2 linked regions of the Homo sapiens genome follow. The protein of the gene in region 2 purifies or fractionates together with the protein of the main gene of each other region. This does not show direct contact. Each region holds a gene or a part of one and is shown on either strand. Other genes may lie near its edges.

What was found. Proteins that work in one complex are often made in the same cells at the same time.
Region 1: the proteins of BBIP1 (region 2) and BBS7 purify together in Homo sapiens (co-immunoprecipitation; one large-scale study listed by IntAct). This does not show direct contact.

Annotation. Positions count from the first base shown.
Region 1 is NC_000004.12:121,828,675-121,832,474, forward strand, and holds part of BBS7 (BBSome complex member BBS7), read right to left. Parts: intron 55-3,800; coding exon 1-54.
Region 2 is NC_000010.11:110,908,220-110,913,360, forward strand, and holds part of BBIP1 (BBSome-interacting protein 1), read right to left. Parts: intron 1-5,141.

The sequences.
Region 1 (3,800 bases), on a different chromosome or scaffold from region 2:
TTTAGGATGGAGATAGTAGAAATGTTGTCAGATTTAAAAACTCCCTCTCCTTTTCTATAAAATTAATATATTTTTTAAAAGAATAGCTGTAGAAGGAAATTGTCCAGTACATATATATTTTATGATTAGTACTTAGAGTATAGATTTCATTTGACTGTAGATTTCTTCTGTATACATATATCATTAATATAAAGCAAATTTAAACATGTAATCCTTTACTGTTATATTAATTCAGCTTCTGAATATACTCGTAAAACTAAACAAGATATATGCCTCCTAAAGATGTGACAATTTATATAAAAACTTCATTTAAACAACTTTTATCTTCATTTTTCACTAATATTTCCAACAGCTAGTCTCATATATAGACATATATAAAATGCACTTAGAATTGCTTACTTACATAAGTATGTTTTTCTTTCATGTAATCACACAAATTACAGTGTGACTATATGCTTTATCCTTAAAAGAAATCTGATATCAAATATGAAAGAGTGACATCTGCTGTTTTTCATGCTCAGCATCCAATGCCACTGCTTATGGTCAGAGGACCATTATTTTTCTTTTTTTTTTTTTTTTGAGACGGAGTCTCATTCTGTTGCCAGGCTGGAGTGCAGTGGCGTGATCTCCACTCACTACAACCTCCACTTTCTGGGTTCAAGCGATTCTCCTGCCTCAGCCTCCCAAGTAGCTGGGATTACAGGCACATGCCACTACACCCAGCTAATGTTTTCGTATTTTGAGTAGAGATGGGGGTCTCACCATGTTGGCCAGGATGGTCTCGATCTCCTGACCTTGTGATCCGCCCACCTTGGCCTCCCAAAGTGCTGGGATTACAGGCATGAGCTACTGAGATTACAGGCGTGAGCCACCACGCCCGGCCAGGATCGTTATTTTTCTTTAGGGTACCACTCCTCTTTCTCTTGCCCTCTTCAGTTTCAGTGGCAATGGTCTCAGTCTATTTCTGGGACTTCAGGAGGAAGCATTGAGCAGTACATTCCATACCCCTGACCACAGTGGTTCATGGCTTAACAATGATACTCAATCCTGGGACTTTTATTGGAGCCAGTGGGCAAGAGAAGCTCTATAGCAGCTGAAAATATGTAAGACTGGATTCTAGGAACTGCTGGTGGCCATAACACTGCATGGTAAAGCCAAGAAAAGATAAAAGCAGAACTGAACAAGGGATAAAATCTTGATGACATCAATTAAGCCACTGATCCAGTTGTGCGTGAGGCAGATTACTGCTAGACTTTTAAGTTATGTGAGCCGATAAATTTATTTTATTTGGTTAAGCTGCTTGCATTTGGTTCCTTTTTACGATGACCAAGTTTCCTAATTAATATATATCATCTTTCATATAGTTAATGTTACCTTTTCATTTGGTTTTCACACACACACAAATGATGTATACCAACTAGCTATATGCAAATGATAATTGCTTTGGTCCGTTGTGGTGGCTCACGCCTGTAATCCCAGCACTTTGGGAGGCCAAGGCGGGCAGATCACTTGAGGTCAGGAGTTCGAGACTAACCTGGCCAACATGGTGAGACCCGTCTCTACTGAAAATACAAAAATTAGCCAGGCGTGGTAGCACACTCCTAAAATTCCAGCTACTCAGGAGGCTAAGGCATTAGAATCACTTGGGCCTGGGAGGAGGAGGTTGCAGTGAGCTGAGATTGAGACACTGCACTCCAGCCTGGGCTGATGAGTGAGACCCTGTCTCAAAACAAATAAAAAAAAAGATAATTTTTTTTTCTAGAAAGATAAATAATACACCCTTACTACTTTGATCTCAATTATGTTTTAGAAATCATGACATTTCTATTAGTCTTTAATCTTAACAGATGATATTTAGTAAACACATAGTGCCAGGTACTATAGAATGACTCAAATGGTTATCTTCTTTTAATCATCATAACAATTCAATAAAGTAAGTGCTATTATTTTCATTCCTCAGAAAAGAAAACTGAAGTTCAGAGAGTTAAGCAACCAGCTAGGGTCACACAGCTGGTAAGTCACAGAGCCAGGATTGAAACATTAGTACATCTGCCTCCAAAGCACATACTTCTACACTACCTCCATACACATATATTTTATTCAGGCATCCGAAAAACATCTGTTGAGTACCTATTATGTGCAAAACTATGTTTTAGGTCCTTGCAGGCTACATACAAAGATATTTAAAATTAGACTGTCCATGAAAATAAAGTTTAACTTAGAGAAATAAGTTTGTATAAAAATTATTAGAGGCCGGGCTTGGTGGCTCATGCCTGTAATACCAGTACTTTGGGAGGCTGAGGCAGGCAGATCACGAGGTCAAGAGATCAAGACCATCCTGGCCAACACGGTGAAACTAGTCTCTACTAAAAATACAAAAATTAGCTGGGCGTGGTGGCACATGCCTGTAGTCCCAACTACTCGGGAGGTTGAGGCAGGAGAATCACTTGAACCCAGGAGGTGGCGGTTGCAGTGAGCCAAGATCGTGCCACTGCACTCCAGAATGGCAACAAAGCAAGACTCTGTCTCAAAAAAAGAATAAAATAAAAAATAAAAAATTATTATATACTTTAAGCAGATAACAATAAATATCACAGACAAGTAAGAAAAAATGCTATGGAAACAGAGAAGAGAATCAAGGGAGAATCAAAGAAGGCTTCAAAAATGTAGCTACTGCAGGATGCAGTAGCTTGCACCTATAATCCCAGCTACTGGGGAGGCTGAGGCAGGAGGATTGCTTGAAGCCAGGAGTTTGAGACCAGCTTGGGCAACACAGTGAGACTCTCTTAAAAAAAAAAAAGTAGCTATTAAGTTGGACCTTAAAGGATAAACAGTTTTGAATCTTAAGAAAAAATACTCAAAGACACAGAATGATAAAAGAGCAAAGGTCTGCTATTATAAAAGTATATAATATGCTAGGGGCATGTTGAATTGTCTGCTATGATTAATGTGTGAGGTTCATTGTGGTACTTCAAAATGGGAGTAATTATTACAGGTTTAGACACAGATAAGCTTCCTTGGACGGTACAGTGAAAAACCTCCACAGAATGGATGTTAAAAACCAATTAGATTTCTGAAGAGTTCTTGGTTCTAAAAGGCTGAATTCTGAGGTAAAATTATGTTTTTAGAATAATACTGTTATTATCCTAAAATAACAAGAGAAGCAAGAGGTATTCTACTTCTTGCTCTCTAGTTGAGACTTTACCATGCTAAGTTTTTAGAACTTAGGAGAAAACCACAATAATCTGCTTAGGGAAAGAACCTTAAGAGGCAGAGGCAGAGAAAGAATAATGAGCTCTCTCCCAGACAAATAACACAAAGCAAAAAAAACAAAAACACACACACACACACACACACACACACACACACAAAACAAACAACCTACAGGCCAGGTGTGGTGGCTCACGCCTATAATCCCAGCACTTTAGGAGGCCAACGCAGGAGGATTGCTTGAGCTCAGGAGTTTGAGACCAGCTTGACCAACATGGTGAAACCCTGTCTACAGAAAATAAAAAAATTAGCTGGGCATGGTGGTGCATGCCTGTGGTCCCAGCTACTCAGGAGGCTGAGGTGGGAGGTCAAGGCTGCAGTAAGCCGAGATCATGCCACTGCACTCTAACCTGGGTGACAGAGTGAGATCCTGTCTCAAAACAAACAAACAAAACAAACAGCAACAACAACAAAAAAACAAAAACAAAAAACAACCTACAGATGTGAGAATGAGAATGCAAAGACTTTGAAGAAGCAGGAGGATCCAAGCTTAATGGGTAGAGGTAGAGATATTGGCCTTGCCCAAGAAG
Region 2 (5,141 bases):
GGACAAAGCTGTATTTTTATAAAGGAATTATTTAAATATGAAAAGATAAAATCTTGCAAAAGACTTGTAGACTTGGCAAAAATGACATCTTTTTCTCCTATCACAAGGATATCCTGATGTGGGGGTTTCTAGTGACGCAAGTACAATATTTTGTGCCAAAATGTTAACTAATGATTACTTATGGGCCTTATTTCTACTTTCTATTACATGAACATCCATTACTAAGAAAGGGTTAAGAACAAAACTGAAGTATTCAAATAGCAAGTCATCTTATATTGAAATTTTAATTCAGCATCAAACTTACTAAGGCATAGTCTCTAGGCTTGAGGATCCTGAAGGATGGGGGTGGAGGGAGAAGAAACAGGCACATAAGCGAAGAAGCATAATGCAATATAAGTTCTATACTTAGAAGTATTTGTAAAAATGCCATGGGAACACAGAATAGGGAGCAATTGTGTCAGGTACAGATGATGGGGGAGGAACTTTAGGTGCAGGTAACAACAGTTTGTGCAGAGGCATGAAGATAGGCAACACAAAGCACATGGTGCATTATGGGGGAGGCAAGGAATGCTTAAAAAAAAAAAAAAAGAGTTACGAGCAATCTGTCTGGAAACAAACCCTAACCAAACTGCAATCAAATTGATTTTGAAGGAAATAAGGAGAACCACTGAAATATTTTAAGAATGAGAATGACCTGAACAGATCTAAAATGTATTCAGGAGGACAATTACAGGGCTATTTCAAATAGTTTAGGTGCAGGTGAAAAATGGGTGCTTCAACTGAGCACCTAGCTACACTGTGAAATCATAAAGCTAGGGAAAGACAAGATTTAAGTAAAAGCTGTGATGGGGTGGTGATTAACTCAGGCCAGCAAAACAATGATACCCTCAACAGATTTTCCATTAATCAGGCAAGCATCTTCACAGAAACAACTTCAAACTGTAAAGACTAAGATTTATATAATTTTGTTATGAAAAAGTTGGCCTTTTTTTTTTTTGAGACGGAGTCTTGCTCTGGCACCAGGCTGGAGTGCAGTGGCGCGATCTCGGCTCACTGCAACCCCCACCTCCTGGGTTCAAGCGATTCCCCAGCCTCAGCCTCCTGAGTTGGGATTACAGGCATGTGCCACCACACCCAGCTAATTTTTTGTATTTTTAGTAGAGATGGGGTTTCATCATGTTGGCCAGGATGGTCTCGATCTCCTGACCTCGTGATCCACCCGCCTTGGCCTCCCAAAGTGCTGGGATTACAGGCATGAGCCACCGTGCCCGGCCAGAAAAGGTTGGCTCTTATGTCATCTTTTGAACTTAAATGTTGTGGACTTGCAGGAGACCTACAAGTGAAAGTCTTAGAAAAAGACAGAATCCTTCGCTAAGATCTTCCCTGCACACCTATTACATATTTGGGAAAAGAGCCTAGCTCCTAGTTCTCTGTTCAAGAAAGTATAAATCTTTACAGTGGACAGAAATTGTGAGTTAATAGGCCAAATTAATGCTGTACCTTGTATTCTATTTGGAAATAAGCACTGGACAGTAAAGACTAGAGTGATAAACATGAGAATGATGTTGTTTTAGGTGACAACAAAAGCATTACTCTTTCAGAGTAGAAAACTAACAAATGTAACATAAAAATAATTTGGAATGATAAAGTACCTATACGAACAGATTTTTTCTTTCAACAAACATACTAAATGTCTATAATGTACCAGCCGTAGCTAAGTGAGAGAGACAGAGTAGGTAAAAACCAGTTTCTTTCTTTGGTGGAGGTGAGGTAGGGAATGAGACACATGTAAATAATTATAATTGAATACAATGTACTTTAATAAAAGCATGCCTACTGTGCCTTAAGAAATGAAAACCATGAAAAACTTGGCTAAGGATAGGGGACAACGGGTGGTCTCTGAAGAAGAATTATTAAACATGACATTGGAGCTAGTCCCAGAAAGCTGAATGGGGGTTTACTAGGCAGAGAAGGAGATGTATAGCAAGGGGCAGATGTTCTAGACAAAGCGAAAAATACGTTCAAATGAAGAAGCATTAAAAAAAAGTGTTCTGTCGGAGGACATGGCTAGAGTGCAGTGTGTGTACAGTGTGCATACAGTGTGCACCAGGTATTGTGGTGGGACTGACCAGCTGGAGGCCAGTTCACACTCAGTCTGCAACGCTGAATTTGGACTTCATATCCTATAGTCAGGAGGGAGCTAACTGGATGGTTCTAAGCAGTTACATGACATGATTCATGTTTTGGAAACACATTCTAGACAAAATAAAGGAAAAATGAGAAGAGACACTAGAGGAAAGGAGATTAGTAAGGAAGCTATAATTGTTTAGGTAAGATGATGAAAGTATGAATTAAAGCAGTGATAACAGACACTAAGAGGAGAAGATATGAGGTAATTAAGGGTACAAGAAGTTGAGATTCAAACATCCTCCACCTTCCCACCCCCCACTGCCAGTGGGTGATAAGGAAATGATCACAGACGACTGAAGTGAGCTAACATGATTGTGGATATACCCATATTAATTCATACCGGAAACACAGATGAGAAGGTTGAGAAGGAATAGTAAAGACCATGAGTTCGGTTTAGATTCACAGAGTGTGGAAGTCCAAGAGGAAGGTAAAAAGGACTGAAGGCCCAGAGTCAACTGTACAGTAGTACAAGCTACGGAGGTGGATATAATCACTCAAGAAAGATATGGCAAAATGGTAAGTGGTGGGGTGATGGTAAAAAGAGACAAGGGTCTAGTGTGGTGGTTGAAAGAAGCAGCTGAAGTCAGATTAGTCACTTAAATTACTTGATTTTCTGAGCCTTCGTTTCAACTGCAAGATAAAGCTTACAATGGCATCAACTTGAGATGGCTGGTGCATTAAAGATATAATTCATATAAAGCCATTAGACCAAACCCTGCATGAGAGCTCAATGAATGTCAGCAATTCTTACCATAGTGTACCATTATAATGTTGGCATAAAATTAGATTTTCAGAAAAAATAAGCTTATTAACATGTATTAGTTATAGAGGCTTATTACTAAAAATGCATGATGAAAAACCTATGGGCAAGCAAAAATATTTTAGAATTCTCCACCTCTTCTCTCAATACCCATACTCTTAAGAGTTATATTAAAGGCAGACTTGTTTAAATGTCAGGACATTTACCTTAGCTTCTTTCCTTTAGTTAGCCTAGTGGCTCTTAAATTTTAGTTTGCTTAAGAATAACAATAGCAACACAGTGTTTAGTACGAAGTCATGCATGTATTTCAACTAAGTAGATATTTTAAGGAATTTTCTGCAGTAATTTTGAAAAAACTTTTATCACCATAACTGGTGATTTTGGAATTGAATTACCCATGTGCCCATCCACCTCCCACTGCATCTCCCAGTTGCAGCGGGAGGTGAACGGGCACATGGGTAAAATTATATATTGGGTACACATATATATATGATGAAATTTAACAGACTAAAACAAGGTTTAAGAAGAGTTATCTTGTCCAACATCATATAGTCGATAAGAAACAGGATTTGAACTCGGGTCTGCCTTACTCAAAGGCAAGGTCTCTTTTCAGTTTTCTCTATGCTACATCTGTAGGATAGGGAGATCCCAAGCAGGTTTAGTACGGTGCTTCACTGAAGGAATATCAACATTTAAGAAGATGGTGGAGAGATAATCGTAGACTATGGTGTGCAGAAGCCAACAAAGGCTGAAGTAACATACAATCTTCAATTTCTACTGAAATGGGAAATTTTGAAGACACTAATAACCCTTACAAAGGAGGGTGAAAATAAAATATGAGGCAAACAGTAAATCTCAGGAATGAGGTAGACGAAAAAATAAGCGCAGCATATTGACTAAAGCACATTTCTTCCTCTATAGTTTGGGAACTGTGTCACAGTCGGACCAATATATGGCTCTAACCAACATGTAGCTTTTCTTTTCTTTTCTTTTTTTTTTTTTTTGGTCTTCTTAATTTGAGGATTTAGCATTCCAGTTGTCATGTTTGATGCCATTCTGAAATAAATCTCTTAGGAAGAAAAACTGCTTTTTGACTCTAGATTTTGTTTATAGCATTAAATATTATTTAAACACTATGTCACTGAAACTTTCAAATCCTAAGCTTAATTAGAAATATACAACACTTTAAAAGCTTACAAATTTTGCATTTTTAAATTATTTTCATCATATCACAAATTATATGACAGCTTATATCACAACTCATGAGAAGATACTGATCTTGGGTTAAACAGCTGAAGAGGGCAATTAGCTTTAGACTGCACCTATTTTCATCTAGCCATCTGGAAAATGTAAGCTGTGGTCACACAGTGGACAGACAGAGAAGGAGACTAAATTACTAAAATTCAAACTGCATTCCTGATTACTCATAACGTATACATATGGATCAGAAACATCAAAATGAAAACATATTGTGGATGCCAAAGTCAAGTCTTGGTTTCTAAAAATGTTCAGGATGGGATTCGGATGTTTTTAAAACTGTCCTCCCCACACTAAGTCTCCTTAATCTAGTATTTGATCTTTGCTGGGAGCCCCAAGGAGCCGTTCCATGGGTCTATGTGTTTATCTTCCATAATATGTGCCTACTACTCCTAACCTGTCACTACATCTTCAATGTAATTCCTTTTTCCCTCTATTAATGTATCTAAACTTATCAGCTTATGCTAATTGTACAGACCCCAGTTTTAAAGTTAGAAATAGAATCCTTGAGCATATCCTAGGATTCCGTGTGTTTTAAATAAACTATGACAGTAAAATCCAATGTGTGACCTAAATAAAACAGAAGCTTATACTAGAGTCTGTCATTTCTTTCTAATCAATCTATTTCACCTTTATGTTTTAAATGAAGTACAGGGTTGCTCTCTGGTGCTAACTAGTTGTACTCTATTTCACATTTATACTTTAAATGGGGTACATGGTTGTACTCTGGCCATGCCGCTAACTAGCTGTGTGACCTTGAATACATTTCTTAGCCAACCAGAGGTTTGGTTTTCTCATACAAAACATGTTTATTATCTGTCCTGGGTTGTAAGGGTCAAGTGATAAGTGGATGTAAAAGTCCTTAGAAATACAGTATGACATTTATTATTCCAGGACTAATTTTCATATTGCTATAATAAAGGACTTGTTCTAG